Linked DNA regions of Homo sapiens. The protein of the gene in region 1 purifies or fractionates together with the protein of each later gene. This does not show direct contact. Each region holds a gene or a part of one and is shown on either strand. Other genes may lie near its edges. The genes, in order: OR5C1 and FAM81A.

Evidence for each region.
Region 2: the proteins of OR5C1 (region 1) and FAM81A purify together in Homo sapiens (affinity purification with mass spectrometry; one large-scale study listed by BioGRID and IntAct). This does not show direct contact.

The regions. Positions count from the first base shown.
Region 1 is NC_000009.12:122,787,542-122,790,500, forward strand, and holds OR5C1 (olfactory receptor 5C1), read left to right. Parts: upstream 1-1,391; coding exon 1,392-2,354; downstream 2,355-2,959. UniProt on the Homo sapiens protein: Odorant receptor.
Region 2 is NC_000015.10:59,436,666-59,441,004, forward strand, and holds the start of FAM81A (protein FAM81A), read left to right. Parts: upstream 1-1,520; 5' UTR 1,521-1,617; exon of another isoform or gene 1,618-1,965; intron 1,966-1,990; exon of another isoform or gene 1,991-2,399; intron 2,400-3,289; exon of another isoform or gene 3,290-3,458; intron 3,459-4,339.

The DNA.
Region 1 (2,959 bases):
CCTTGCAGCTTTCCCCCATTATCCAGATGAGAACATTGAGGCTCAGAGAGGCCAAGAATTCAGCTCAGGAATATATTCACATTTTCTGTTCTTTCTACTCCCCACTGTTTTCGCAAGATACCAGGCTACTCCTTTCTCCGATCTTACTCCAAAGGAAAGATGTCCCTACTAGCAAACCTCAAAAGCCATGGCCAGGTGCCCGTTGGATCTGAAGATTATTTCTGCTCATTCCACTGTCTCTTTTCTTACCTGGAAAACTGGAGAGGAGAATGCATATAGAGTCACAAAGTTTTCAATCATTGGCTGGACACTAAATATCATCCCATTCATTCATTTAACAAATCTTTTTTGAGCACCAGCTATGTGCTAGGCAATGCTCTCAGTGCTGTAGACACAAAAGTGAATAAGAGGGACAAGACCCCTGTGGGTGTGGTGGAGCATGCCTATAATCCCAGCTGCTTGGGAGGCTGAGGTGGGAGGAGGATCACTTAAGCCCAAGAATTTTAGTTCAGCCTGGGCAACATAGTGAGACCTTGTGTCTCTTTAAAAAAAAAAAAAAAAAGGCTGGGCGTGGTGGCTCACACCTGTAATCCCAACACTTTGGGAAGCTGGGGCAGGCAGACTTGAGATCAGGAGTTGAAGACCAGCCTGACCACCAACATGGTGAAACCCTACCTCTACTTAAAAAATACAAAAATTAGCCGGGCATGGTGGCGGGCACCTGTAGTCCCAGCTACTCGGGAGGCTGAGGTAGGAGAGTCACTTGAACCCAGGAGGCGGAGGTTGCAGTGACCCAAGATTGCACCACTGCACGCCAGCCTGGGCAACAAAACAAGACTCCATCTCAAAAAAAAGAAAAGAAAAGAAAAGAAAAAAGAAAAAAAGACGGGCCGGGTACAGTGGCTCATGCCTGTAATCCCAGCACTTCAGGAGGCTGAGGTGGGCGGATCACCTGAAGTTGGGAGTTCGAGACCAGCCTGACCAACATGGAGAAACTCCATCTCTACTAAAAATATAAAATTAGCCAGGCACGGTGGCACATGCCTATAATCCCAGCTACTTGGGAGGCTGAGGCAGGAGAATCGCTTGAACCCAGAAGGCGGAGGTTGTGGTGAGCTGAGATCACACCTTTGCACGCCAGCCTGGGTAACAAGAGCAAAACTCCATCTCAAAAACAAAAAAAGGCTTCTGCAATGACTTCTAAGAGTTAGAAACAGGTTTTGAGAGGTTACGTGGCTTGCTCAAGGTCACAGCAATTTTGTTGCACAGGTGAGCTGAAACCCAAGCCTACCTAACTCCCAGTACAGGATGCTTTCTTCTCCCTGGCCATGGCCTTGCCATTGCTCTTATCTCCCTCCTGCTTTGCCTCTTCTCAGTCTCTGTCCAGTAGGATGAACTCAGAGAACCTCACCCGGGCCGCGGTTGCCCCTGCTGAATTCGTCCTCCTGGGCATCACAAATCGCTGGGACCTGCGTGTGGCCCTCTTCCTGACCTGCCTGCCTGTCTACCTGGTGAGCCTGCTGGGAAACATGGGCATGGCGCTGCTGATCCGCATGGATGCCCGGCTCCACACACCTATGTACTTCTTCCTGGCCAACCTCTCCCTGCTGGATGCCTGCTATTCCTCCGCCATCGGCCCCAAGATGCTAGTGGACCTGCTGCTGCCCCGAGCCACCATCCCTTACACAGCCTGTGCCCTCCAGATGTTTGTCTTTGCAGGTCTGGCTGATACTGAGTGTTGCTTGCTGGCAGCCATGGCCTATGACCGCTACGTGGCCATCAGAAACCCACTTCTCTATACAACAGCTATGTCGCAGCGTCTATGCCTGGCCTTGCTGGGAGCATCAGGCCTGGGTGGGGCAGTGAGTGCCTTTGTTCACACAACCCTCACCTTCCGCCTGAGCTTCTGCCGCTCCCGGAAGATCAATAGCTTCTTCTGCGATATCCCTCCACTGCTGGCCATCTCGTGCAGTGACACCAGTCTCAATGAACTCCTTCTCTTCGCCATCTGTGGCTTCATCCAGACAGCCACGGTGTTAGCTATCACGGTGTCTTATGGCTTCATCGCTGGGGCTGTGATCCACATGCGCTCGGTCGAGGGCAGTCGGCGAGCAGCCTCCACCGGTGGTTCCCACCTCACAGCCGTGGCCATGATGTACGGGACACTCATTTTCATGTACCTGCGCCCCAGCTCCAGCTATGCCCTGGACACTGACAAGATGGCCTCTGTGTTCTATACCCTGGTCATCCCGTCTCTCAACCCACTCATCTACAGCCTCCGCAATAAGGAGGTCAAGGAGGCCCTCAGGCAGACCTGGAGCCGATTCCACTGTCCAGGGCAGGGGTCCCAGTGATTGGTCCAGGGAGGCTGGGTAGGTCTGACTATGAGGGGATGAGGAAGGTCGGGGCCTCTTTCTGGCCCCGTCACTGTCGGTAAAGATGGGATGTTCCTCTGGCTTGGATGTCTCATGTCATTGTTTAAGGGACAGTAAAGAGGGAAATGAAAGCTTATAGCAGGGAGAAAAAGATTTGGGGTTCATCTAGGGCTAGACCTAGAGCCAGACGCTAGACCAGGCTAATGTTTCTGTTGCACTGCCTCAGGTTCTTCAACATTCAAAACATTCTTCAATATTCAGCTGGGTGCAGTGGCTCATGCCTGTAACCCCAGCACTTTGGGAGGCCAAGGCAGGAGTTCAAGACCAGCCTGGGCAACACAGGGAGACCCCCCCACCATCTCTACAAAAAAAAAAAATTGTTAAAAATAAGCTGGGCATGATGGCATACTATGCAGTCACAAAAAAGAAAGAGATGATATCCTTTTCAGGGACGTGGATGGCTCTGGAGACCATTTTCCTCAGCAAACTAACACAGGATCAGAAAACCAAACACCACAAGTTCTCACTTATAAGTGGGAGCTAAACAACGAGAACATGCGGACATATAGAGGGGAACAACACAC
Region 2 (4,339 bases), on another chromosome or scaffold:
AGTGACAGTGTCATCACCATGACATAGGATCCAATTCAATATGTATTTACCTAGTACATACCATGCACCAGGCAGTGGGAATCTAACCGAGAAAGGAAAGAATAATCATTGAGCTTTTGCAGCACTAAAGAGATGCTGTTATACCAGATCTACACATCACAAGACTCAAGGCCATTACTCTCCTGGTCACAACGGCAGTGTTAACATGTGTCTGTGATTATTTGATGAATGCTCGTCAGGCTCTAAGCTCTGTGGGATCAGAAAGTGATGTGTCTCTTTTTCATCTTCACCATTGTGTCTCAGGGCTAAGCATAGTTTCTAGCACTTGGCAGCCATCCAATAGATACTGTTGGCTGAATGAATGTTACAGATGCGTTAGCGCTTTGTGGAAGTTATTAGCCCGTTTTACTGGTGAGGAAACAGTCGCAGAATACCCACAAATATTTCAAAGATCACACACAAATAACAGTCCTTAATACTAATAGCCCCTAAATAATAATGCTGCCGGAGAGAGAATTCCAAAACCGCTCAGCCGAATCCACAGTTCGGGCTCTTCTACCATGTCGGGCTCCTTCCCCTGGGTTGGAAGGGCTCAGGCTGGGGCGGGGTGGGGGAGACAGACAGGAGCCCCTGTGCTGGGTAAGTACCAGTATCTGCGAAGGAGGCACGAACCAGATGAGGCAAAGGTCGTGTCCCCCGCAACTCCGCTGAAATCCTGCCCACCGAGAGGAAGCACAATTATGAGTGAATGGGCTTGTGCGTCCTGATGAGAATCCAAAATCGAGAGGAAGGTGGAAAGAGCCAGGACGCGCTGGGAGGGGATGAAGCTGACGGGAGAAGAAAGGGCTGGGAAGAGGAGGGGTGTTCGGGGTTCTTCTTCTCGTCGTGTCTGCTGCGATGAGACACGATCCTGGGTCCCAACTGCAGGTGTCAAGGCGATTCAGTAAATGACACATGGCAGCCCCGGAGGGTTCGTTCACCTGCACAGGTGGGGCGTCACCGTGGCCTAATCAAATAACTTCTCCCCAATTTGAGGTGGGGCGGGGGAGAGAACTATTTTTGTGGGAAAGCGGTTTAGTAAATAAGGTATATTGGGGCTCTAGAGAGAATTGCAGTGCCACCACCATGGCTATGATCTCCGTCAGGCACCATTTCAACACCTCTCCAAATCAACCATCCCTACAACAGGATTTATTTTCCAATGAGCGAAATCCCCGCCCGCCAACTCCAAGGCGCTTGGATGCGAGCTCTGTGGGAAACAGCAGCGACGAGCAGAGGCTATTTTGGGTGTGGGAACGAGGAGGGAGGAGGGGCGGCGCCGCCAGGCTGGGCGCGGGTGCGCGGGGAAAGCCTCCAGCTCGGGCTGCCACGGCAACCGCGTCCAGGCAACGCGCCCGGAAGCGGCTCCGGCGGCGCGCGGCGGCTCGCGCCCCCCGGGAGCCGCGAACCCGGCCGGGCCGCGCGCCGGGCCAGGCGGCAGGCGCGCGCTGATTGGACGGCGCTCCCCGCGGCGCGGGCCCGCAGCCGGGCGCCCTGCTCAGCCAGCGCCAGCGGCCGCCGCACCCAGCCGCGCCGGCGAGGACATGGGCAGCCGCGGCGCGCCCACCCCCCGCGCCGGTGAGTGCCGCGCTCTGGGAACCCCGGCCGGGCGGCCTCTGGGGCTGGGCGGCGGGAGCTCTCTGGGACGGCCGGTGACCTTGGGGCAGCCTCTCAGGAGATAGGCGTGGGGTAGAGAGAGCTGCGCGTGGCCCATGTGACATGCCGCGGGCGAGAGGGTTAACTGCATGTGACGCGAAGGGCTGAAGTTGGGCACAGAGCGCAACTGGCGTTGCATTTTCGCGGGGGCTGCATGCTAGCGAACCAACCGACGCCCGGAGGGACTGTTTGGGGGAGCTGGGGTGGTGCACGGATTGCCAGGGGTAAAGGCGAGTCAGCCGACCCACTACTCAGAGTGAGTGACCTTGGGTAGGTTAACCATCTGCTCTTCCGCCCCTTCGCTTTTTCTCATCTTTCAAACGAGAGGCTAGGGGGTCTTTGCAGTTCCAGAATGCTGTTGTGCCATCCTACTGCGAGCTGAGAAAGAGCCCTAAAGTACGGTTCTGCAGGTACCGGAGATGCAAAGCTTAACCATGTTTATTCTAGGAGGGGTTTCCATTAATTGGCTCCTAAAGTGGTAAGAAATGTTATCGTTGTCTGGAAGATTATGGAGCAAGCAGTCGGTGGTCCGGAGAATGGCTTCTTAAGATGCACAGGTTAAAACCTCTTTGGTGCCCTAAAGACATGAACAAAATCAGGATTAATGCTCCTAAGTTCTTCTTTCCTGTAGTTAATCTAATAGGAAACTTTGTATTTGAACAGGTAAAATCAAAACCCAATCGTGGCAGGCAGCAGCAAATTAAGTGAGTCATTTCTTCAATGTGCACGAGGTTTATGTGTGTGTGTGCGCGCGTGTGTGTGTGTGCGTGTGTGCGCGTGCGCTCTCGTCCTCAGCTCAAAGTCTGCGTACGGCAGTGTTGGAAATTATTTCATAGGAGTAACCAGAAATAATGCTAGAATGATTCGAATCCACAAAAGTGCAGCTCTCTCAGAAGCAAGGGCAAACATTTGCAACTTGCTTTTAAAATAAGAGGTTTGTAGAGTAAATATATTCTTTATTGAGAACCATCCCCAGATTTGCACATTGTATCTGCCTTCTGGGCCCTGTCACTGAATGCGCGTGTGTGTATGTGTGTGTGTGTGTGTTGGGGGGGGCGGGTTCCTTGGCACTTATAATATTTTTAGCGTTGACTGGTACTAAAAAGGACACTTAGGCCCCCTTCCATATCCACTGTCTATAAACTTCCCTCTTCCACGGAGGGGAATGGAGGACGTACCCTCTCACAGGTACCCCTGGTTGCCCCTTCTGACTTTCTACTTAAAGCTACCCTTGATTTTCATTCGAATCTGATTTCATCTGTATAAGAACGTGGGTTGGGAAGACACAGTTTCCAATGCTAATGAATAAGCTTCTGCAAGCTTGTTTACCTGAGGGCTTAATAACCTTTAATGTGTTACATGTTAGAAATCTGATAGCATACGGATAGAAAAATACTTAGTGTCCAGGAATTCAACCATGAAGCCCTACCAACCATTTAATGAGCCACACTACATGGTGCTTGGAAACGTTATTAGCGCATTATTCAGCCTCCTCTCTCTGCAGGCCACTAGGCTGTGTCACTCCGACCTGGCTTTAAATGTCTTGTTTCTTGTATCCTGCAGCCACACTCTTGCATTTTCATTTTTTATGTAGCTGAACCCACCTTCTCTCCCGAGCACCAGAGCCTGAGTGAACAACTTGCCGCAGAAGAGCCTTCTCTAGTGTCCTCCACCGTCTCACCAGAGTAGGGATGCTCTTCCGCTTCTCCTTAGTGCTGCCTCCAAACCAATGCACCATCACCAACCAAGTCTCCTCTCGGAAGGTAGTGCTATCTGCTTGTGCCCCTACCCTCCTTCTTATCTTCTGGTCCAGTGCTTCCCAAACCTGGGGGCTCCTCAGAATCACCTGGGACATTTTGAAAAACTTGGTCTTTAGACTCTCTCAGATATACCAAATTAGAATCATTGGGGGCTGGGGCAGGGTGGGGGAGTAAGACCTAAAAATCCCTACTTTAAAAACAAACCCCAAAAGGAGGAGCAGCAGGAGACGATGAAGAGAAGGAACAGAACTCTCTGGGCAATTCTGATGTACACCCAGGTACAGTGGGGATCTCTTCACTTGATGCCCCAAAAAAGGGATAAACAAACAAAAAACGTGAGCAGCCAGCTTCATTCTCTTCTCTGCTTTGTCTCTTGCCAGTGACTTTGGGTTTTGTGTTGAAGCTCTCTTAATTCTTTGACCTTGAAGTTCCTCAACATCTATCCCAGTAGCCTCAGTTTCCACTTTGCTTCAACTAACATCTTGGACTTGTTCAGTCTTGAACAAGACTAAACCTTTGAGATCTTGAACTCGGACTTCAGCCTACTTAGCTGATACTACCCACATACTGCTCTGGATTTTAACCATCGCTGAGGACCCTGGTCCCTTAAGCACTTGCTGTTCCAATCCTTCAGCCCCTCTGTGACTCTGTTTCTCCACTTGGGGCATGTAAGTTGCTGGCCATTTCCATTCTGTCTGGGATCCCAGAATCCTTTGTTTCAATGTGTTGGGCTTCTTATATTTCAGTCCTCAATCCAAAATCACCCCCGCTTGCCTGCTTATTCTTCTCCCAGCCTGCCACATTATCTAGGAGGAAGTCACAAAGACCTTTGGACAGGTTCCATTGAAAATTTACGTTGGCTCTAATTTCACCAGATAAATTCC